Linked DNA regions of Homo sapiens: all the other regions are linked to region 1. The links come from fine-mapping of genetic effects on gene expression. A gene starts in region 1. Each other region holds a variant in brackets. All regions are shown on one strand. Distances are from middle to middle. Region 1 holds the start of GASK1B-AS1 (GASK1B antisense RNA 1). Region 2 overlaps GASK1B-AS1 (GASK1B antisense RNA 1). Region 3 holds the start of LOC124900801 (a long non-coding RNA gene).

Evidence for each region.
Region 2: its variant is fine-mapped to the expression of GASK1B-AS1 in whole blood (TOPMed, PIP above 0.99).
Region 3: its variant is fine-mapped to the expression of GASK1B-AS1 in whole blood (TOPMed, PIP above 0.99).

What each region holds. Positions count from the first base shown.
Region 1 is chr4:158,167,098-158,175,285 of GRCh38, reverse strand. It overlaps GASK1B-AS1 (GASK1B antisense RNA 1), which reads right to left and starts at 4,534. Exons shown (of 5, transcript NR_147410.1): 1 at 3,806-4,534. GASK1B (golgi associated kinase 1B) reads left to right here and starts at 2,261. Exons shown (of 5, transcript NM_001128424.2): 1 at 2,261-2,418; 2 at 3,687-4,820. The coding sequence starts at 3,911. It overlaps LOC101928007 (a long non-coding RNA gene), which reads left to right. Exons shown (of 4, transcript XR_007058350.1): 3 at 1,020-1,172; 4 at 1,478-1,598. RefSeq lists enhancers at 2,885-4,084, 4,258-4,778.
Region 2 is chr4:158,200,179-158,208,366 of GRCh38, reverse strand. It overlaps GASK1B-AS1 (GASK1B antisense RNA 1), which reads right to left. Exons shown (of 5, transcript NR_147410.1): 5 at 5,490-6,955. Among named protein-coding and RNA genes, the nearest start is that of TMEM144, 6.2 kb to the left of the region's middle. The variant C/T (reference allele first, on the strand shown) is at 4,862.
Region 3 is chr4:158,007,619-158,015,806 of GRCh38, reverse strand. All of the region lies in intron 1 of LOC105377509 (a long non-coding RNA gene), which reads left to right. It overlaps LOC124900801 (a long non-coding RNA gene), which reads left to right and starts at 6,052. Exons shown (of 2, transcript XR_007058348.1): 1 at 6,052-6,218; 2 at 6,678-6,909. RefSeq lists a silencer at 1-90. The variant T/C (reference allele first, on the strand shown) is at 3,835.

The sequences.
Region 1 (8,188 bases):
GCTACCTGATGGCAAAAAACACCTTTCCATTCAGTTTCAACAGAGACCATGAGCAATTGATGGCAATTGCTTCCACATTCGAAAATGAGATATGGATCCGCAGTGCTAAGGGAGGTGGGTTGCTGCATTGGGAAGTCTGAGGTTGCTGGAGCAAATGATGGTGACCATGTCCACTGGATCACTTGTGGGGCAGTACACAGAGGCCCAAGTTAGAAAACCAGCCTGCAGGTCAGCTTAAATGCTGCCTAAGAGAACAGCCTGGAGAGATGAGGTGATCTCAACAGAACAGGGGGCTACCAAGTTCCAAGGGACTAAGGGGCCATCAACAGCCAGCTAGAGAGATGCTTTGATAGTGGTGTCTTTGAATTAACTATCTCAGAGTCAGCTTTACACACCTGCCAAACCTGGAGAGCTTATAAGTCAATTTGCAGCAGTATCAATGGAGTAGCAAGGCCATTTCTGCTATTATTGCTTCTCTCTCTCCACTACCTTGGAACAGCCAGAGCCAGGCTCAAAGTGGGGTGAGCGGCTGGGTGAGTGGTTAAGGAATAAGAGCTCTAGGCAGGAACAAAAAAGAATGTAAGATGGGTCTCCTCTGTCCCTTTTCAGTAGATTTTGGCTATGCTTTTTGAGGGACTGCTATCTTCTGGAGAAATTCTGGGAATTTAAAAGAAATTTTTAAAGAAATTGACTGTGATATAGAATCAAACATATTAATTAGTTTATGTGTATTATGTGTCTGTATGTCTATGGCTAACAACTGGAGAACTTTTACAAAAATTTAAGTATGACTGGAAAAGTCATGGGGACTGCCTGAGTTTCCATTTAAGAAAGTTGAAAAGAGATATCAGGCCACAGAACAGGTTTCAATGGGCAGTGGGGGGAATCACTAAAATTGTGCTCTGATTATATCTGACAAGCCCCATTTATCCACTGTATTGGCTATATCAATATGTTGGCTACAAATAATTCAGTGTGCTTGTCCTCAATTCTACCATGATTGCTTTGCTGTGGTGCAGTGGTGACTATCTGTCAAGGCCTGGGCTGAGGAGAGAGGCCTCTGAGCAGTTTAATGAGGCATCATGGGGGATAAAAACAAACACATTGCTGAATATTTCAAATGATCATTCCAAGGCTGCTATCTCATTCAGTCATCAGAAGAAACCGATAGGGTAAGTGCTATTATTTTTCTTTTCTTACACATGGGGGAAACTGAGGCTTAGAGAGGTAAGATTACTTGCCACAGGGGACCACACGTAAGAGGTAAATGAGGAGAATTTAAAGCCAGTCTGCCTCCCTCTTCAGCCCATTCTCTGAATATCATAGTTCAGAGTAGATAGTGTAGCCTCCACGAATCCCTATTGTGGCTATAGCAGGGGACAGTGTATTGTTCTTTTTCTAGGAGACATTTTTGGAGTGGGGGTGGGAAGGTAGTCAACGAAATTTACTAACTCACACAACTCTCCCTATCTCGTAGGCATTTCTCCATGAAAAAAATAGCTCTAAAAACAGCTAGAGGAGATGTCTGCTTATTATAACTGGCCTCTGCCAAAGGCTTACTTTTAATTGTTATAGAGCCAGGTCAGTTATTCCTTTGACTGTGGAAATAATAAGATGGTTATAAAATGCAGCTTTGGTATGGTTTCCTTGCAAGAAGTTCACATTTTCTATCAAGAAAATAATTCTGTGTGTATGGAAGTGTGTGCCTAAGAGTTTTTGAGTGCAGATAAAATTGTTTTGATGCCTGAATTCTCACAAAGTTTAGCCAAAATATCCAGGTACTTCCAGGCTACTGTCAATATTGGGATTGCTCCTTCTCATTCCTCCATGTGGCAGGACTTTTAAAGAGGAAAAAAGGACTGAGTTTAGAGTGCTGAAATAACAGCCCGATTATAATTTTTGTCAATTTACCACTTGGACGTTTATTCTCTCCTTCCCTATATATTCCAACTCCTTGCTCTTTTTGCATTGTAAAATATAGTATTTTTAGGATTATACACCATATGCTAATCTTTTACCCACTCTTCAGTATCACAACTTTCTTTCTCTGTGGGGAGGAAAAATCCCTGTCCCCTTTCTGTCTTCTTGCCTTTTGATTCTATTTGCCATAGTCTAATTGACACCCCAAGGTCATCAGCCCCTGCCTTTGTGCTAGGACACGCAAACCACCCAGGCCAATCCCTAACCTGTTTTTTCAAAAAACCTCCAATCAGAGAGAATCCACGACTTCCTTTTGTGAACTGTTGCACCGTGCAATTGCACACTATAAATGTCTTTCCTTATCTGTGTGTACTCTTATCTCACTGTTCTATTTTTTCTCCTCATTTATATTAACTCTTTCTTACCTTTTTTTCTGAACTTCTAGGCCTTCTCTTTCCAGAACTGGTGGAAGACAAATGAAACGGCCAAGATGGTAAGGTGAGTAGTTCCTGGGAACGCTTGTGCTCTAACCCCAAGTTATGTGGGATGGACACTCGAGGGGTGATGGCATTCCTCATTTTACAAGTTACTTGCTTGGCTGCGGCTGCTCCACCAAGATAGCAAACATTCTCGATCTTTTGAACTTCATGAGACTGACATTTCTGAGTCTGTTTGCGAACAGGACACTAGAGGGCTCCCAGGGGTTAAAAATAAGTGGAAATTTATTTGAATGAAAACTGATTCTCTACGGCATTTCTTTTTTCCGAATTTAAAATTAAAGTTTATTTTGTTAACTATTGTTTTTAAAAGCTTTGTATCTCTTAAAACCATGCAGCAGTCAGTTTCCAAGTTTTGCTTTGCAATCAGTAGTTTTCAAGGGAGCTTTTAAAGCTGAACTGAAATGTTTGAAATGTGGAACACTCTTGACCATGAAATATGTTCTACTTACATGCCTCAGCCTTTAAAAGTTCTTTGCATTAGAGTCAAGGATTACATTCTTCCTGGAGCCAAGCATGGGGCCAGCTGTGTAAGTAAGGTTGCTTACGAGTTTCTTCTTTTTCTTTTTAATAGTGAAAAAACAGAACTAGAGATGCTTTTATTTTCTTTCAGCTGACTTCGGTGGAAAGAAAAGAAATAAAAAGCAGTCAGAGTTGTGTTGTGTTGTGTGTGTGTATGTGTGTGAGAGAGAGAGAAAGAGAGAGAGAGAGAGAAACAGAATAAATGCAACTGCTTCCAAGATATATGGACATTTATGGCTTTGTATTATACTAACAATGTAAGCTAATGGAACATATTATTAATATGAAGTACAATTTGTACCTTTAGACTAAGAGAATATGTTTCTAAATTTTATTGTTAATACTTGCTGCTTGTACTTAGTTAATTCAGGACTTTAAAAAATAAAAATGGTATAGGTATAGAGTATTAAAAAATTATCTATTACTTGTCTTAAGTTCTTTCTGAATTTCAAAAAGGAAAAGCCCAGGTTTGTCACATTTTAACGCTTTTGCTTCAGAGTCAACTTAAATGACTCTAGGTACAAGTTATAAAACACTCTTGGATTTTTGTGGCTTGTTTTCACTACTTTCAAGTGACTATCAAATCTATACATCTATCTCGTTTGCATGCTTTTAAATTTTATTTTTAAAAACATTTAGTGGTGATATTTATGAAAGGAAATGATTACTTTTTTTCTTGACTCTTGTAGAGGAACTTAAATGGTTTGAAATTGTGACTCAGTTAACTCTGTATCCATTCATTCCCAGAAACAAGCCGCATTTCTCCTTGGGGAGACTGATAATTTAAAAGGTTTGTTGTGTCAGAAACATTCCCAGCTTCATCACCAACCCTTTCCTTCCACCTCTGCCCACTGGAGACCACTTATATCCCGAAGCGGACGCGGCAGCTGAAGTCAGGAAACCATGCATCACATTAGCAGGAGCCAACTGCAGACTTTAAACTCCGTTCAACATGTGGATGCGGCAGAGAAATGACCTGTCCAGACAAGCCGGGGCAGCTCATAAACTGGTTCATCTGCTCCCTGTGCGTCCCGCGGGTGCGTAAGCTCTGGAGCAGCCGGCGTCCAAGGACCCGGAGAAACCTTCTGCTGGGCACTGCGTGTGCCATCTACTTGGGCTTCCTGGTGAGCCAGGTGGGGAGGGCCTCTCTCCAGCATGGACAGGCGGCTGAGAAGGGGCCACATCGCAGCCGCGACACCGCCGAGCCATCCTTCCCTGAGATACCCCTGGATGGTACCCTGGCCCCTCCAGAGTCCCAGGGCAATGGGTCCACTCTGCAGCCCAATGTGGTGTACATTACCCTACGCTCCAAGCGCAGCAAGCCGGCCAATATCCGTGGCACCGTGAAGCCCAAGCGCAGGAAAAAGCATGCAGTGGCATCGGCTGCCCCAGGGCAGGAGGCTTTGGTCGGACCATCCCTTCAGCCGCAGGAAGCGGCAAGGGAAGCTGATGCTGTAGCACCTGGGTACGCTCAGGGAGCAAACCTGGTTAAGATTGGAGAGCGACCCTGGAGGTTGGTGCGGGGTCCGGGAGTGCGAGCCGGGGGCCCAGACTTCCTGCAGCCCAGCTCCAGGGAGAGCAACATTAGGATCTACAGCGAGAGCGCCCCCTCCTGGCTGAGCAAAGATGACATCCGAAGAATGCGACTCTTGGCGGACAGCGCAGTGGCAGGGCTCCGGCCTGTGTCCTCTAGGAGCGGAGCCCGTTTGCTGGTGCTGGAGGGGGGCGCACCTGGCGCTGTGCTCCGCTGTGGCCCTAGCCCCTGTGGGCTTCTCAAGCAGCCCTTGGACATGAGTGAGGTGTTTGCCTTCCACCTAGACAGGATCCTGGGGCTCAACAGGACCCTGCCGTCTGTGAGCAGGAAAGCAGAGTTCATCCAAGGTAACAGATTCACATGCTTCGTTATTTGCAGCTGTTGGGGATTCTGGTTCATTTTCTTTTTTCCCTCACTCTCTTTTTCTAAATGATTTTTCTCCACCCACGGTTCACATTTGGACAGCAGCAGCAGCAGCGTGTCTTTCCATGCGCTTGGCATTCTTTATTTTCCCAGCCTGGGAGGATATGAGAGTTCCAGGGAAATGCTGTATTGGACATGCAAGAGTAAGCCCATACTGTATAATCTTTGCTCTCCATTTCCCTCGCTTCACTTCCCAGTGGCTTATTAAATCTAATTAAAGCCAACGGCAATTTGCATGATGAGGAGAGGAAGCTAGGCTGGAGGCAAAGAACTTGCTGACAGTCAGGCATACTATTAAATAGGTTACTATGGGAGGAAGTAGAAGTTTTTAAAAGTAAGGGGGAAGCGGGTTATCGTTCTTGAGCAGATGGAATCTTCTTAAGCCGCGCAGAGCCAGACCATGTTAGGTTTAACCCCCCCTTTTTTTTTCAATGGATTTAACCTCTTTATTTAACAAATAAAAAGAATGAGCAAAAATTGGTGATTTGTTCAGTATGTATACTAACTAGCTGTGTGGTTTTATCAAGCCCCTGACTATGATCTATTGAGTCTGTCTTTCAAGATTCTCCCGTCTTGGGTGACAAACATTTTGGCAGGTTCTAACACATGTAGCCAGTTACTGCAGTTGCCAGCAAAAGGACTGGTCTGCGGTCATGCCCATGCCATATAAAGGATATTCTCTGAATATTAAAGCTATTCCAGGGCTCGAATACAAAGTACAGTGAGTCAGTGGCTTATGTTTGAATGCAGAATGATGCCAGAAGTTACAACTTTGAATCCAGATTGGCCCAAGAGGCTAAAATGTACCCCAAAGAGATTATAAGCTGAAAGGATACTTAACTTTCTCCATGTTACCATGAAATTTAGCATTTCAGTGAGGTTCCCAGGGAGCCTAGAATGGAATGGATTAAAATCCCTGGGAGTGGCTGAGACCCAACTGCATTTCCAATGGCTTTAGCATTATAATTTCATTTTAAAATGGATACCCCTGGAAGTACCAGTGATTTACTTAGAAAAATTGGACATTCCCTACTGATGGTGGTTCTTGTCTAAGTGCTCCAGATTCACAGGTATGCTTTGATGTCTCAAGTTTATAAAGCAGTCCACCACAGTTATGCCAATGTAAGAAACCTTCTCAAACATTTAATCTAATGTTGATAAAAATGAATTTTTATTGGGTGCCCACAATTTGCTAAGGATTATACAAATTGATTCATATGTGTTGGCTCCTAGAATTTTCATAACAATGCTATGAAGTGGGGACTATTATTATTTCCATTTAGTAGATGAGAAAATTGAGGCTTATTGAGACAAAGTAATTGGCCTCAACTCCCACAGCTAGTAGGTGGCTAAGCTGGGTTTTGACTATAGACCCAGCAAACTTCAGAACATAACTTCTTAGCCACTGGACTTAGGTGAATATGTAACTTATTATCCAAACTGGAACCGTGTGGCGTGAAAGGAGATGCTGGTGGGCATTGGGACAACAGGCCCACACTGACTGTTCTGAGCAGAGTAGAGCACAGGATCCCCCTTGTTATGCTGAAATCCCATTCATTTTCATGTCATAAAGGCCCCAGAGAGGAGAAGATGAACTCCTGTGTATATCCTGAGGCAGAGTTCTCTGATATGTCCTTTGAGCTTCCCTTAGACGCTCTTAGACTACTGTATTGGGAGAATGCAGTAGTGGCTAAGAGCCTGGGCCGTGGAGTTGGACTGACTAGGTTTGAACTTACCAATCATACGACTTGGAAATGTTGCCATGTCTCTTTATGCCTCAGTTTCCTCAGCTGTAAAATGACAATACTGCCTACCATATGAGATTGTTGTTAGTTAATACAGGGAAAACACTTAGAACCAGTATTTGCCACAAGATAAACCTTCAATAAATATTGGTTATTATTATTATTATTGTACCAAGCACATGAGGTACCAAGTTCATTGAATTCCTCACATAATCTCCAAGTCTCATGTGTTACTTCGTTACGTGATAGGACTATGACTAAAACTGCTCAATTAAACTTTTGTAATCCCAATCCCTCTTAGATATTTAATTCTTTGCTCTGAATTTCCAGCATCTTTGAGAACAAAAATTCATTTGAAGGCGGGGTTTATGATCTCAATATAGCCTGGATATTTCTCTCTCCTTTCATATGGTAGTGGTGATGGAAATAAACTAATAAAGCTATACTAATATGACTCAATTTAATAAATAAAATCCCTAAGATTATATCTCAAACAACATTCTGTCTTTGATACCTTCTTCTACTTAGTCATTTAGAGTCACAAAGTCAGGCCAGTTTCTCCAGGGGCTCATGAAATGATTTCATATAGTTATGAATACTCTACACAATGTAATTCTACTCAAGCAGACTGTTACAGTGTTGCAAAGTACATAAATAGACCACTTCTGGTCATGGTATAGACAGCATTAGGTTCTCAGTATCTCTACCCATCCACCTATTTCTAGTCTTTTTCTCACTGTGTCTTTCTTCCCTGATTTCCACGGAAGCGTGTAGCTTTCTTCTAGGGCACTGCTATTCTGTTGGTCAGAGTTTGACTTTATTTGAGCCTTGCAGCCCACCCAGGGAGGCAACAGATCTTACCTAGTTACCCAGCATCTTTTTCAGCTTGCTCTATATCATTATATTATATAATACATATTTGTATTATAATCATTTATTTAATCATCTGTTCCTTCCCACTACTCTCTAGGTCAGTGAAGGCAAAGATACTTCCTGTTTTCTTTAGAATTGCATTTCTGGATCTTAGCAGAGAGTCTGGCCCATAGTAGATGCTCAATAAATATTTTGAATGAATGAAGGAATGCGTTCATTGCTTGTTCCTTGGACTCTAAACAGTAAAACTATACTGGAAGCCACCAGCTTCTAATACTTAGGACGTGTAATAACATTTTTAGTCTTAAGTCCAGGCTGGGCTTTCTCCTGGAGGATCTCATAAGGAATTCATTGTGGAGGTAATAAAAAATGTTTTTGGTAGCCTCCTTACAATGCAAATGAAAGGTTTACAGGGCTTATTCTTGTGAGAACTATCAGTGTGGTGTGTTGGCATCACACTCTAGTGTAATTCGATAATGAGTTTTCTGCAGGAGGAACAATAGGATTTAATTTAGGTATATATTTCTCTGATGACCTGGCTTGGTCTGGGAGTAGATCTTTTAATATTTGAGAGAGTGAGAAGCCAGCAAAGCCTGTAAGTAATCTACCCTAAATGTTGTTTCTGTTCTGACTTTTGATTAATGTTTATAAAAATAAATTTATATCTGGCACCA
Region 2 (8,188 bases), 33 kb before region 1:
CATTTATACAGTATTTGGCCTATTGCTGAAGGCTGAGTGTGGACTAACTTGAGAGTTGAAAACTCAGAGACAGTGGGAGTCATTCATATGGGAGCATCCACACATTAATGAGTTTTACTTTCAGAAGACAGGACAAAAGTTTCCTCTTTTTTCTGGCATGTGGGAGGAAAACAATAACTATTTGAAATATACTCAGAAACAAAAGCCTGTCCTCAAGGTAAACTTTACCCCAGAGCTTTATCTGAATTAGAGAAAAGGCAACTAGACAGTTTGAACACCTTCTACACTTTCTTTCTCACATAAGGAGAAAAACAAAAGAAGAAACCCTTATGAAGTTCACAGCTCAGGGATTCTGGACAACTAGAAAACAGAGTTTTAGATGTTGGCAAAGATACAGAGAAAAGGGAATGCGTATATACTGTTAATGACAATGTAAACTAGTAAAACCCCTACGGAAAACAGTATGGGGATTTCTCAAATAACTGAAAATAGAAGTACCATTTGGCCCAGCAATCCCACTATTGGGTATCTACTTGAAGGAAAAGAAATTGTTATAATCAATGACACTGGCACTCATATATTTATTGGGGTACTATTCACAATTAGGAATCATCCTAAGTGTCCATCAGTAGTTGATTGGATAAAGAAGATGTGGTATATATAAACTATGGAATATTACGCAGCCATAAAAAGGAGTGAAATCATGTCCTTTGCAGCAACATGAATGGAGCTAGAGGCCATTATCCTAAGTGAAATAACTCAGACAGAAAATCAAGTACTGCATGTTCTCACTTATAAGTGGGAGCTAAACAATGGGTACACATGGACATAAAGGTAAAATAATAGATGCTAGGGACTCCAAAACAGGGAAACGTGGGAGAGGAGAGCAGATTGAAAATTATCTATTGGCTGTAATGTTTACTATTTGGGTGATGGGTTTACTAGAAGCCCAAACCTCACCATTACAGAATCTATCCATGTAGGAAACCTGCACATGTGCCTCCTGAATCTAAAATTGTTTAAAAAGAAATAAGAATTTAAAAATAGAGATTTTATCATAACATTATAGAATGTATCAACTCTCCAATATCTTACGACCACATAAATAGTGTTTTGGTATAATAACTGTGGATCACAACTAGAGAGAGTTGCAAGACACAGACTCTGCTTAAAAATGAGTCTCTAGGAAAACCCAAAGACAACAAATAGGGGAGACAAAAAGAAAGATATTAGAGAAAATAGAAGCCTCTGATACTTACAGCTACAACAACCATTAAGCACAGTCTAACTTCTGGCCCAATACACATAAAAACTAAAGGTCTACTTATCTTGTTTTCTATTATCTGATACATCATGCCTCACTTTCAATGAACAATTATAAGGCATGCTAAAAGGCAAGAAAAAACACAGCTCTGAAATGTCAAAGCAAGCCTCAGAACCAGATTCAGATATGGCAGGGATTTGGGAATTATGAGACTGGAAATTTAAAATATGCTATGACTAATATGCTAAGAGATCAACTGGGAAAAGTGCAAGAACGAATAAACAGAAAGATGAAAACTCAAAGAATCAAAAGGAAATGTTAGAGAACAAAAAATACTACAATAGAAAAGAGAATCACTTTTGATAGCTGCAAAAGAATCAGTGAGCTTGAAGGTATGTCAGTTGAAACTTCCCAAACTTAAATGGAAACAGAAAACAGAATAGGAAAAAGAAACACAATTTCCAAGAACTGTATGAAAATTACAAAAGGCATAAAATACAGGTAATAGCAATACCAGAAGGAAAAGAAAGAAAGCAGCAGAAGATACATAAATAATAGTTATCTAGGTATCTAATAATGGTGGACAACTTTCTAAAATTAATAACAGACATCAAACCACAGATCCAGGAAGATCAGATAACACCAAGCAAGATAAATTTTAAAAAAACTACATGTAGGCATATTGTATACAAATTGTGGAAAATAAAGAGAAAATATTGAAAGGAGTCAGAGGAAAAACTATCACCTTACTTATAAGGAACAAGGATGAGAATTAATCAGACTTCTCAGACACCATGCAAGGAAAAAGAGAGTAGAGTGAAATATTTAGAGTGTTGAAAGAAAAATCCACCAACCTATAATTTGTTTCTTATTCTTAATTGATCGCATAGATAACTTCAAAATAATAATATCAGTAATATATTGGGTGATATTAGTTTATGAATAAATGAAATAAATGACAGCAATGCTTTAAGGAACAGGAGAGAGGCACTGGGAATAATCTTTTATACAGTACCTGCACTACCTGTGAAATGGTATAGTGTTATTGAAAAGTGGACTTAGTTGTAAATGTGTACTGCAAACTCTAGGACAATTTCTAAAAACATATTTTTAAGTATAATTGATATGCTAAGAGAGGAGAGAAAATAGAATCATATAAAATGCTCAATTAAAACTAGAAAAGGGAGCAAAAGAGGTATATTAGTCTATTTGCAGACTACTATAAAGATACTACCTGAGGCTGGGTAATTTATAAAGGAAAGAGGTTTGACTCACAGTTCTGCATGGCTGGGGAGGCCTCAGGAAGCTTAGAATCATGGCAGAAGGCGAAGGAGAAGCAAAGGCATGTTGTACATGGCAGCAGGTGAGAGGAAGCAAAGCGGGAAGAGCCCCTTATAAAACCATGGGATCTTGTGAGAACTCACTCACTATCACGAGAACAGCATGGGGAAAACCACCCACATGACCCAATCACCTCCCACCAAGTCCCTCTCTCAACAGGTGGGGATTATGGGGATTACAATTCCACGTGAGATTTGGGTAGGGGCACAGAGCCAAACCATATGAAGAGGGGAGGACAAAAAAGGGAAATAATTACAAGGGCAACAAACAGAAAACAATTAATATATGGGAAATATTAATCCAACTCTATCAAGTATCACTAAATATAAATGGTCTACCAATTAAAAGACAACGACTGATTGAATAAAATACAGGCATCAACTCTACGTTGTTTACCAGAAATCCATGTTAATTATAAAGACACAAAAGGAATGGAGAAAGTTATATTTTTCTTTTCTTTCCTTTTTTTTTTTTTAACCTTTGAAACAGGGTCTCACTCTATCACCCAGGCTGGAGTACAGTGGCACAGTCATGGCACACTGCAGTCGTGAACTCCTGAGCTCAAGTGATCCTCCCACCTCAGTCTGTTGAGTAGCTGGGACTGCAGGCATGTGCCACCACAACAAGCTAATTTTTAATTTTTTGTAGAGATGAGGTTTCACTATGTTGCCCAGGCTGGTCTTGAACTCCTGAACTCAAGAGACCTTCCTCCTTCAGCCTCCCAAAGTGCTGAGATTACAGCATGAGCCACCACGCCCAACAAAATATATTTTTCTAACACTAATCAAAGGAAAGCTAGAATAACTATTTTAACTTCAGACAAAGCAAACTTCAGACAAGGAAATTATTAGGAATAAAGAAGGCCATTACATAATGATAAAGGGGCCAGCTGTCCAATAAGCCATAACAATCCTGTGTATGCACCTCACAACAGAGTGTCAAAATAGGTAAGGCAAAAACTGGTAAAACTGCAAGGAGAAATAGACACAAATAGATTATTGCAGTTGGGGTTTTCAGTATTCCTCTATTAGTAATTGGCAAATCGAACAGGCAGAAAATCAGTAAGAATATAATAGAAGTGAACAGTACCATCATCACCTGGGTTTAATTGATAGTTATATCTCATTCAACTGCAGCAAAATACGCATTCTTCTCAAGCTCGTATAGAACATTAACCTAGATACACTACATCTGGGGCCTTTTGCATGTGTCAGAACCCATAGAGCTATACAACATACAGAGTGCACTCTAATGTAAACAATGGACTTTAGTTCATAATAATGTACCAATATTGGTTCATCAACTGTAAGAAATGTACAACTCAAACGCAGATGTTACTAATAGAACTGTGAGAGAGTAGAGAGGGGTTATATGAGAACTCTATTCCTATCTCCTCGATTTTTTTCATAAATCTAAAACTGCTCTGAAAATAGTGTGCGAAAATGTCATTATTTTAAATTTGTGATTATTTTATGGCAGTTAAACTATTTTCTCAGCCTGGTGAAGGAAACCAACCCCCTAAATGATCTTATCATATTTGCATATATATTTATATATTTAATATTGTATACAAACATGAAATATAAATATATTTATTATTTATTAAATATGTCTTTATTAAACATATTTAATATTGACCAACATATTAAATATTAAATATATTAATGTAGAACATTTATATATTAAATAGATATTTAAATACAATGAGATTATTGACGGGGTTGGTTTACTTTACAGGCCGAGGAATATATATTATATGTATTTAGATATGATGAAATAATTGATGGGGTTGATAACTGATAATTGATAATACATATTTGCCCATTTATTTAAATGTATATTTAACTCATTTGACTATCTTTTTACCCATTCACCAAATACAAGAATACTTAAAAAGTGAGAAATCTACTGCCAAGTGGTATTTTATTTTTGTCTATAGAATCAAAACCAATACCAATATTTTCCATATTTAATCTCTGAACACTTGTTTATCTTTTTATGATCTTTTGAGATGTTTGGGTGTGGGAACTTTAAAAAAATCTAGGCTACTTACCCTCCTTCCCCGAGTTGCTAAATGATCCTACAGACTGAGTGTATCTGCTGCTCATTTTGAGGATCTCTGTGTATAATGAGAAATGATGACTGGTGAAGGCAGTAAAAAACCTGCTGATTCATTGGATAACATAATCAACCACTTTATTGTTTAAAATAACCCTTCCTCTGTTTTTTGGAAATGGAGAAGGAATCAATTTAACA[C/T]GTAATTTTCAAGCAGAATTTTATTATATCATAGAAGCAAACAAAATTTTCCAAGAATAATCTGAAATTAGGAAAAATGTGCCATTTTACTGAGAAATAATGATGCTGTGTTGAAATGTTTCTCTCCTGATTCAAAGTATATTTTTCGTGTAAAATGTTTTACAATAAGAATACCCCAGGTTGGGCACAGTGGCTTATGCCTGTAATCCCAGCAGTTTGGGAAGCCGAGGTGGGTAGATCACTTGAGGTCAGGAGTTCAAGACCAGCCTGACCAACACGGTGAAACCGCGTGTCTACTAAAAATACAAAAAATTAGCCAAGCGTGGTGGCGGCGCCTGTAATCCCAGCTGCTTGGGAGGCTGAGGCAGGAGAATCGCTTGAAACTGGGAGGTGAGCTGAGATTGAGCCACTGCACTCCAACCTGGGTGACAAAGCGATACTCTGTCTCAAAAAAAAAGAAAAAAAAAAGAAAAAAAAGAATATCCCAATAAATAATAAAAATATTACCTTTGTTGATTTTAAAGATTTATTCCTTGAAAAGTTTACAATTCTGTAATTATAATAAACTGAATCAAAGATACCTGTAATAATTTGTTGTGAGCTTAAGAAAAGACTAGTATACTTACTTATATTTGTATTTATAATTTACTTAATTTCATAAAGTCTTTGAAGCAATATAGAATAAAAACAATAAAATAATAGGAACAAAGGAAAAAACCTAGGAAATTAAGAAAGTCAAGATGAAACAAAACAGAGTTTAGATGCCAAGAACACATAGTTACAATAGATGACTTTCAATTTTGGTCTGAGTTTCACAAGGGAAAAGGCAAACAGTGGGTTAGGATAGCTTCCTATTTAACTGCTATTTTTGTGAGACAGTTCTTCACGAAAGAAAAGGTTTTTCTAGTAGTAAATTTCAGAAGTGGCTAAAGTGGGGGTAGAGATCTAAAAATAAAGATAAATCAAAAGATTTATCTTTGAGGCATTTTTAAAGGTACTATTACACTCTTATACTCTTAACACTGGTGTATTCATTTGACAAATTTCATGGAGTGTCTACTGTAAATCAGACACTCTTCTAGACATTGGGAACAGACAAAAACCCCTGCACCAACTTAGCTTACATCTGAGAAAGGGAAACCAGAAAATAGATGACAAATATGGTATATGAAATAGTGATATGTGCTAAGGAAAAAAAAATTAAGGAGCTAGGAAGACTAGAGACTCTGTGTGTGTGTGTGTGTGTGTGTGTGTGTGTGTGTGTAGGTTGGGGGTACTGCAGTTTAGGAAAGGAAGTCCTCACTGAGAGGGAGACATTTCAGTGAAGGCCTGGAGGAGGGAGTGGGAGTGGGGAGAGAGTGTCCAGTACAGAGGCCCTGAGGCAGATTTGAGAAAGGGCAAAGAAGTCACTGTAGCTGTGGTTGAGGTGGAAAGAAGGAGAGTGGTAGAAAATGGAGTTAGAGAGGTAATGGGGGTGGGAAGAATGTGAGGGGCCTCACAGGCCTTATGGACTTTGGATATTTCTCTGAGAGAAATGGGGAACCTCTGAAGTGTTTTGATCACAGGAGATGTATTAGTCATCTGTTACAGGGTAATAAATACAGCCAACCAAAATGTAGTGGGTTAAAAGAACACTAAGTACGTATTATCTCTCATAGTGTCTGTGGATCAATAATTTGGGAGCAGCTCAAGCAGGTCTTCCTACTCAGGGTTTCTCATCAGGTTGCAGTCAGACCTGGGCTAGGGCTCTGGCCACCTGAAGAGGTGGTTAAGTCGAGAGGATTCACGTCCCAGGTGGTTTACTCACGTGACTGACAAATTGGCTGTAGCTGATGGTGGGAGATCTCAGGCCTTCTTGACATGGGCCTCACCACAGGACTGCTTGTCTCATGGAATGTCACTGCCCTTCCACAGAGTGAGAAATCCAAGAAGGTGGCTGTGTCCTTGTCCTCTATGACTTCACATCTGAAGTCACACATCATGCCTTCTGCAGTGTTCTATGAGTCATATGGTTCATCCTGATTTAGGCTGTAAGCAGATTGCATCATGGCGCGGATACCAGGAGGTGGGGATCATGGGGGTCCATCCTAGAGGCTGACCCAAGCAGAGGAAAGGAGATAATTACTGGAACAATGTCTCCCCATAGGCATGAGTATATGGAATTTAGTGCAAAAGGAGAGGAAATAGCCTTTGTTAGGGACACAGAGGGATCTTTGATAGTAATAGTATATAGGTGCAGTTAGAGGAGGTAGGAAGATCTTGTGGTGAGAGCTTGTACACATTCTCATCTAATTTTTTCTCTGTTTCTCAGTGAAAAGGAAACAAGGTCATAGGTCAAGAGTGAGGATTGGGAAGAAGGTGTTTGTTAGAGGTTCATCAGTATTTCAAGTTTTTCAGTATCTTTTAAGTGATGCAGTGCTCATTGCCACTAACCCTTGTTTGGTCATATTATAAAGGAGGAAAAAAAGCTGTAGTTTTGATCACTGTTCTATTGTAATAAGCACAGCCTGAGCTTTAGTAAAGTGAAAAAACCCCAACTCTGTGTGTATATTTTTTTTCATTTTAAGGACAGTAATTTTTTCTTTTTGATTTCAAGTACTTTCTATGTTTACAGCATAGAAAGTTTTATGCTATAAGCATCTTTTGGTAAAATTAGACTACTTTGTCACTTCTGCTTATGGAATAGAGTAAAATACAGATAATAACATTTGCTTAAAGGAGACATTTAAAAAATAAGATGTGGTTTGTCTTAGCCCAATCAGCCTAAAACCACCAGGGACAACCTGTAAACAAACCAATTGAGTTTACTGACTCATTGCAGTGTGGGGACTGCACAACAGAGCAATTGTGGGGTATCTCATCAAACAAAGGAAAATATAGGGTTAACATAAGATTTTGCTAAAGAGTGGAATTTAGGTGTGATGTAAATGAAATGATATTCTATGGGCTCTAAGAAAGTATGGTTGTGTATAAAAGGGGTCAACCTCAGCTCTGTACTGTGAAATGGACCTATGGTTCTTGTCTTAGTCCATTTTGTGTTGCTCTAGAGGAACATCTGAGGCTGCGCAATCTCTAAGGAAAAGAGGTTTATTTGGCTCACTGCTCTGTGGGCTGTACAAGAAGCATGGCACCAGCATCTGCTCCTGGTGAGAGGCTCAGGCTGCTTCCACTCATGGCAGAAGGTGAGGGGAGGTGTAATGTGCTAAGATCATACGGTGAGAGAGAAAGCAAGGAGGGAGGAGGGAGGCGCCAGGCTCTATTTAACAACCAGCTCTCTTGAGAATGAATAAAGCAAGAACTCACTAACTGTTCCCTACCCCCAGGGAG
Region 3 (8,188 bases), 160 kb after region 1:
CAAACAGACAAACAAATAAATGGAATTTGTAATTGTCCAAAACATACAAACAAACAAATAAATGGAATTTGTAATTGTCCACAACAAAAATTGATGGTAGAGAATATAACCAGTTGTTATCTACTTGTAAATAGATGGTTACTTTTTTGTTCGTTCATAACATAGAAATAATGATATTATTAAAAATATCTCTTTTTTTTACTGGATATGGGCAAAGTAGTAGTCATGTATATCAGTGTGTGAGTCATGGGCAGATAGCATCAGCATTACCCACAAACCAGCCTTTTTCCAGCCCTACTGAATTAGAAACTGTTGGTAGAGTTCAGGAATAGATGGTTTAACTAGTTTCTCAGGTGGTCTTTATGAAAACGAAAGTTTGAAAAGTCCTAGTTCATGTCACTTTCATTCACATTCTCTTGGCCAGAACCCAATCATCTGACCCTAATTTCATGCAAGGCTGTGAGAGAAGCCAGTTTCCAGAGCAACTCTACCCTTCGGTACACAGAAATACCCAACTCGACCTAGTGTTTGGCAAACAACTAGCTATCTCTAGCTAGCATTAATCTTTCAGAAGAAAAGTTATGTCACAAGAAAATAAGTTTTAGAAGGTACTGGAAATGTTGTTTAATCAATAGTCAACCCAATTTTATTTATTTGTATTGCTTTATATTTAAAATATAGTGCTAATTCTCTTTTATATTTGTGGCACTTTGAAAAAAATTCAACTAAAAGCCTTGATAGAAAAAAAAGTTTCAATGAAAAGGATGTGTTCTGAGCAGAGCCAAATTTCTATTTATTTCTGCCAATTGCTAACCAAGTGGCATTGGGAAAGTTGAACCTGTTTTAAGAAATTCAAAGTAAAATAAAAGCTTTAACATTGAGGATACTTGAGGTTTGACAGTTTTATGTTTTCTAAGTTAATATTTTGGGATTATAATTAAATCCAATGATTAAATGAATATGTATTTGATTATTTTATGCTTTGCAAAGGTAGTTACTGGGGATTAAAACTTAGTCTAGTGATAGGAGAACTAGATATGTAAATAAATAAAAACAGTACATATGTGATTTTATTGTCTTTTATAAGTTTCATATGTTTCAGCTTTAAAAGCAAATCTATTAAAATAGTTAATTCACAATTTAGGACTATTTCTAGTGGTATTATGAGACAGACCATGCAGAGTTTTATTTTTTTATTTTTTTATTTTTGAGACAGTCTTGCTCTGTCACCCAGGCTGGAGTGCAGTGGCATAATCTTGGCTCACTGCAACCTCCTCATCCTGGGTTCAAGCAATTCTTCTGCCTCAGCCTCCCAAGTAACTTGGGATTACAGGCATATGCCACCACACCTGGCTAATTTTCGTTTTTTTTTTAGTAGTGATGGAGTTTCACCGTGTTGGCCAGGCTCGTCTCGAACTCCTGACCTCGAGTGATGTGCCTGCTTTGGCCTCCCAAAGTGCTGTGATTACAGGCATGAGCCATTGCACCTGGTCCCATATAGCATTTATTAATTATATGTTTTAAGTTTTTCCTCATTACTGTATAAACAATAACTATTACTGTATTCTCAGTTCCTGGAACTGTATATACTTAGTAGAATAGCATGCACTATATATTTGTTAAATTAATGAAACAAAATATTAAACCCCATGGTTTAGTTATGACTCAGAGTATCTTCCTTACCATTCCCTAGTACATTGTGGCCAACAATTTTCATGCCTTATGTATCTATCAAGCAATGTGATCTATGATAATCACCAGTGCAACTAAAGAAAAATAAAAAGAGCTTAGTGTTGTTATCTCTGAAAAATGAGTCAAGTGGTCACTCTGGTCTATGTGGATTTTTAAAGCTTTGTGCTGGTAATAAAGAAGTCCAATTTGTAAAGGAGAAAAAAACACATAGCAAAAGGAGAAGACTTCTGTTTGAGCTTGTGAATAGGCAAGAGAAATAAAATAGATTTAAATAGGAAAATTATATAGCTCTTCAATTAAAACAATAAAAGATGTTAGAGTGTCTTTTAAAAGAAATAAATGCTTAGGATAAATTCAGGTTTTTAATTGTTGTTTTTATTGTCACTTATCATTAACTTCCTTGTCAACCCAACCCCAGTGGCACTTTCTAGAGATCTTTGGTTTATTTCTTAGGAGTGGGCTGTCTTCTTTCTCTGTTTCAAAGCAACTGCTGTCTATTTCCTCTCCTAGGCTCTAAAAATGAATCACAAAATGTGTCATTTGTTCAAAGCAAAGATAGCCTCTTCTATATTCAGCAGGACCAAATCAGGTAATATACATGAACAGGCCTCATATAACTTGTTTTTGCTGTTGTTTTTAGAATCTGGAGAACAACTACCCAACTGCAGAGTAGGGGTGTTGCTCCTGCTCTGTGCGTGTTTGTGTTTTAAGAGACTGAGTGAAATCACCCATTTTAAAGGACAGATCAGAGACATTTAAACAAAATTGAATTTGGAGTTTGGATGAAAAATTTACTCCATTTTCTTACAAAAACCAAACTAAATCAAACCATGTTTTCATTTTGTTCACCATCCATTGAGAACATTATGGATTTTTTCTCTCTGTTTTTTAAATTTTATTATCGTATATTAAAATTTGGTTTTAAAGTTTGTTTGTTTTTTTTTGTTTGTTTGTTTTCAGATGAGTTTGGGCGCATTCAGGGCAGTATGACCATAGCCTGGTTTTTTTATTTTCAGAAACAATGCCTTTAGTCCTTTAATTTCCTCTCTACTTGCTCATCTGACATGTGTTCATTGCTCTCATTCTCCTGCTTCTCTAAATAATATTAAGTAACAGAAAATGTGCTATTTAATAAAATTAAAATGAAGTTTATTAACATATTTTTCAGAATACTATATATATTCTTAATATTTGTTTGTGTCCAGAGAATTTTTACTTTAATGTAATATAAACCTTAGGACTAATTGAATTGGAAGTATATTCTAAAGGCTACTTACTCCACCATTCTATGTTAACTCACAAACTATATAACAGAAAAAAATCATTTTTTTCTTTATGATAAATCTTAGATTAATTTTGACAAGCTCAGCATGACAATCAAACTTGCTGTACAACTTTGATTTATGTGAAAACACACACACACACATACCATCCATCAACTCTTAAAAATTTCTTCTGATTGATTGGCTAGAGAATGAAAGATTTACAGAAATATATTAGACAAAAGAACAAGCTATGAAGCTAAAATACTAATTACTAATGACAGAAGGGCAATAACATTTATTGGGAAAAGTATCTCTTCCCCTGAAGCATCTTAAAGGTTGTCTATTGATGGCTTCAGTGCTTTTCAAGGGTTAAACAAGACAATCAAATTAAATTCATATTTGCATATATGTAAGTATGGTTGAACAGTATAAATAATGCCACCTTTATGTCTAATAAATTATACTACATGAAAAAGATGGACTGCTCATCATCAACATATTCTAATTAAATCTCTTCTGTGAACTGAAGTGTGCAGTTCACAGTATGCATGAAAGCTTTACAGGCTTTCAGTTTCTTAAAGCATTTGAGAAGGATCATAAAACTGTAAACAAACAGAGTCCTCTCTAAATAACCAACTTAAGTCTCCTATCATAATTAAAATAATTTTCTAAAAGCACATGATCCAAATTGAGCCAAGAATTAATTTAAAAAATAAACAGAAAATAAAATAATATTAAATATGAAACTGAAACTATCTACAAAATCACCTAATAAACAGAAATATGTTATATGATGACAGTGAAGTTTACATATTCTTCCCACTTTGCTAGAGATCAGTGCTTGTAGGGGAAGAAAATTTGAGAATTATCAGGATGA[T/C]ATTTCTTCTTATTTCACCAGGTACATGTTAACATCTCAGTTTTCCTAAACTAAATGTATGCATTTTTCATTATAAAGTACCTTTACTCACTTAAAGCTTCCAGTTAGCAGAAAGTTCATTTCTATGTGGCTTTGGGATTTGTACTCTTTATTTGGGCTAAAACCTTGTGAAGCAAAGACAGCTGAGGGGAAAGGACAAGAAGCTACATGGAATTCTTCACCTTAAGGCTGGAGTCAGAGAGGAAGGGAGTGCCAGCGACCCCAGACGTGTGTCAAGGTGTTCCCCTGCCAGAGACTTGGAGCCAACTCCAGCCACTACCTGGTGAGATACTGTACTGCCACTGCAACAGAACCATCTCCAGGATCCACTTCACTTCTTTACAACAGCTTGCTCTGTGACAAACCCAGTGCCTAATCCTACCTCCCTGCACAAAGAAGATGATTCAGGTGCACACTCTTTGCCAAAAACTTTAATATTGACAGTAGTCTTTATGTTGTGTTTCAGTCCCACTGATAAGTGCAGGAGGCAACTTGAGAAGAACTGATTGTGTATAAACTAGAGCCTTGGTAAATATATCAGAATATCAACACTGTTATAGCTGGAAGGCACTGGCTTCCAAAAGTCTTGGCCACATCCCCTAGAGGGGCACAGGAATGATGCAGGGGTGGGGAGGGGGCACTAGGATGGGGACCACAGAGAGTTCTGCTGTCTTTGGGTTCCACATGTCAAACAAGCACCAGCTACAAATGACAGTTCCAAAAGACTCAGCATTGGTACATTGGAAAATACCCAATAAATGTGGTAAACATAAAAAAAGTGAAATTTGACCATTTATCAAAGTTATTTGTGATTATCAAAACAAAACCCCCCAAATTTAAAATGGCCATATTTAAACCATAGACTGTAGTGACTGTACAGGCTGCAATGATAGTGAATGAATATTTTAAATTCAGTTCTGGTGACAACTATGACCAAAGGTGATATTTTCTAAATTTATTCCTTTAGAAAATAAGTGATACAATTTCATTTGTTTAATTTTTTACAAAGGTAGAATTCTTCATAATCGGGAAATGCTATTGCCTTTTATTCTCTAAGAGTTAAGCAATGGCCATAAACTTCAGTTCTATTTGATCATTTGTTCACATCTGCATGTTAACAGGTTGGCTTGTGATGAACCGTATTCAGCTAAAGCCACCGAAGTACTGCAATATAGGGCAAAACAAATCATACAGTGTTTTTAGTGGGCTGTCAAGATACTTCACGTTTTTTTCAAGCATTTTCTACTGCATTATATAATGTTTCCTCTAGATATTTCAAATATTGCACAGTGTAAGATCCCCATATTCACTCTTCTCAAAACAGACCTTGGCAGGCCAGACATGATGGCTCATGACTGTAGTCCCAGCACCGCGGGAGGCTGAGACAGACGGGCGATTGCTTGAGTCAGGGAGGTCAAGGATGCAGTGACCCATGATCACACCATTGCATTCCAGCCTGGGAGACAAAATGAGACCCCATCTCAAAAAAAAAAAAAAGCCCAAAAAACAAAAAAAGTAAACAAAAAGCAGACATTGGCCATCATTTCCCTTTAGAAAACTAAACCTTAACCTCCAAAGAAATGCCATTCCCTCATTTATACTCTCCTTGTGCACTGTAGAGACTTCTCTCAAAGCACTTATAGTGATAGATTCATTAAATCTGTCTATCTCTCTCTCTATCTATTATCTATCTATCTTGCTTGGTTATGAACTTACCCTATTTATTCCCTCACACAGACTTATGTGCCCTATGCTCTGAGGGCTTAGGCTGTATTCATTTTTACATATTCAGCTCTCTGCTCCAAATCTAGCACACCTAGTTATTTAACAACTATGTATTAAGTGCTTACATAGAGTCAGACTGGTGTAGTGGAACAGCGCATTAGCTGTGTGATTGTCAGAAGTGTTTGAACCAGAGCAACTCCATCTTGAATAGGGGCTGGTAAAATAAGGCTGAGACCTACTGGGTTGCATTCCCAGGAGGTTAAGGAATTCTTAGTCACAGGATGAGACAGGAGGTCGGCACAAGATACAGGTCAAAAAGACCTTGCTGATAAAACAGGTTGCAGTAAAGAAGCTGGCTACAACCCATCAAAACCAAGATGACCTCGAAAGAGATCTCTGGTCGTCCTCACTGCTCATTATATGCTAATTATAACACATTAGCATGCTAAAGGACACACCCACCAGCACCATGACAGTTTACTGTTGCCATAGTAACATCAGGTTGTTATCCTCTATGGTCTAAAAAGGGGGGAACCATCAGTTCGGGGAATTGCCCACCCCTGTCCAGGAAAACTCATAAACAGCCCAGCCCTTGTTTGGTATATAATCAAGAAATAACTGTAAGTATCCTTAGTTGAGCAGCCCATGCCGCTGCTCTGCCTATGGAGTAGCCATTCTTTTATTCCTTTACTTTCTTAATAAACTGACTTTCACTTTACTCTGTGGACTCACCCCAAATTCTTTCTTGCGTGATATCCAAGAACCCTCTTTTGGGGCCTGGATCTGGACCCCTTTCCGGTAACATGATCATGGGTAGTTACTTTATCACTCTTTATTTCCTTTTCTTCATTTTTAAAATGTGTGTAATATGTCATTTAGTTTGCAAGGTTGAAGGGATTGGAGCACAAACCTTCTCAACAAGCCTGAGGAACTTGCCCTCAGGTTTGTCAAGGAGCAAGGCTGCAGCCGACAAATGGAGCCACTGTTCTCTGTTTCTCTGCTGTGTCAAGTTCAAAACTGATGACCCAAGAATGGAGCTCATCAATTTCAAAAGGAAATAATTCTATGCTTTTTTTTAGCCTCAGAAGATAAATATTTCTTGTGGTACCTCTGACATGGCAACATGCCCATGCACGTCGGCAGTGAATAGATGGGGTTGGTGGATGGAAATGGCAAACAGACCGGACAGACCTCACCCAAAACTTAACAGCAGCAGGCCCTGAGAGGGCCAGTGAATCTCTCCATGATCCTTGGTTAGTGGTCAATCTGAAGCTTTTCTTACCGAAACAAATAAAGATATGTCTACAACAACTGATATCGACTGAGAGGCATATCAGGCAGGGGTAGCTGCCTGAACTCTGAAAGGGACAGAGAGGAGGCACAGTGAAGACAAAGAAGTAATGTGTAACTTTTGGGGAATGAGGAGGCTACAGAGCCTGATGGTAAAACTATGTCAGCTGCTCAGGAGGGAGAAGCTGGAAGGGAGGTTTGTTGTTCTTGGCAGGCGGATGTGGAGGTTGGAATGAGTGTAGTCCTTTTAAGTTTTGTTTTGTTTTCTTTCCAGAATATCAGTGACCTTTTCTCCCAATCTAAAAATTTAACTTAAGAGAATATATTATGTGTAAACTTGGGGCAATAAGGGCAAAACAAAACAGCAGCAAAAACAAGGCAATAGCATTTGCTAATCTTTACCTGACAGCTGAAATAGATAGCATTTGTAAAGATGCGGCTCAAAGAAAGTACTCACAATTGATAATTACTGTTGTTGTTGATGTTTAGTTGCGGATCTGTTATGAGTGCCATTTATTTGTCACTAGGCTTTTGTTTATGTGCAATTCATTTTCTCTAATATATTCATAACAAATTTATACAAAAAGTATCAATTTCCCATTTTGTATTCAATGGAATTGAAGTTGAGAAAAATTAAATTAACTGAATAAAGTCACATAGACAGGAAGTCAGAAATCAAATGCAGACTAGTATATGTCCAGGTTCTTTCTTTTACATGGCATTGCAAATATTTAACATACAAAGTGTGAGGTTCTAACCTATACAAATATAGAAAATGGAGGAGCAAATGGATGGCAACTAAAGTAGGAATACACTAAAGATCTATTTTCTATTAATCCACACTTTTCCTTATTTTGACATTGTTTCTATCCCAAGCACAAGTAAGTGTTTCCATTTGGATGCTAATAGGTGCAAGCTTCCCAGCTTCACTTTTAAGACTTGTTAAAAGAAAAACTTTAGTTGAATTAAATTTAAGAGAGTTTAATAGAGCAAAGAACTATTCGTGAATCATGAATCAGCAGCCTCCTGAGCCAGAGTAGGCTCCATGACTTCAGCACAGCCACGGATGTAGGGACAGAAAAAGCAAAGTGATGTACAGAAAACATAAGTGAGGTGCAGAAACAGCTAGGTTGGTTACAGCTTGGTGTTTGCCTTATTTGAACAGGGTTTGAACAGTTGGCCACATCTGATTGGCCAAAACTTGGTGATTGGCCTAAGAGTAGGTTACAACTCCATTTAGTTTATAGTTCAGGATGTACAGAGAAACATTTAGGGTGAACTTAAAATATGTAAGGAGATG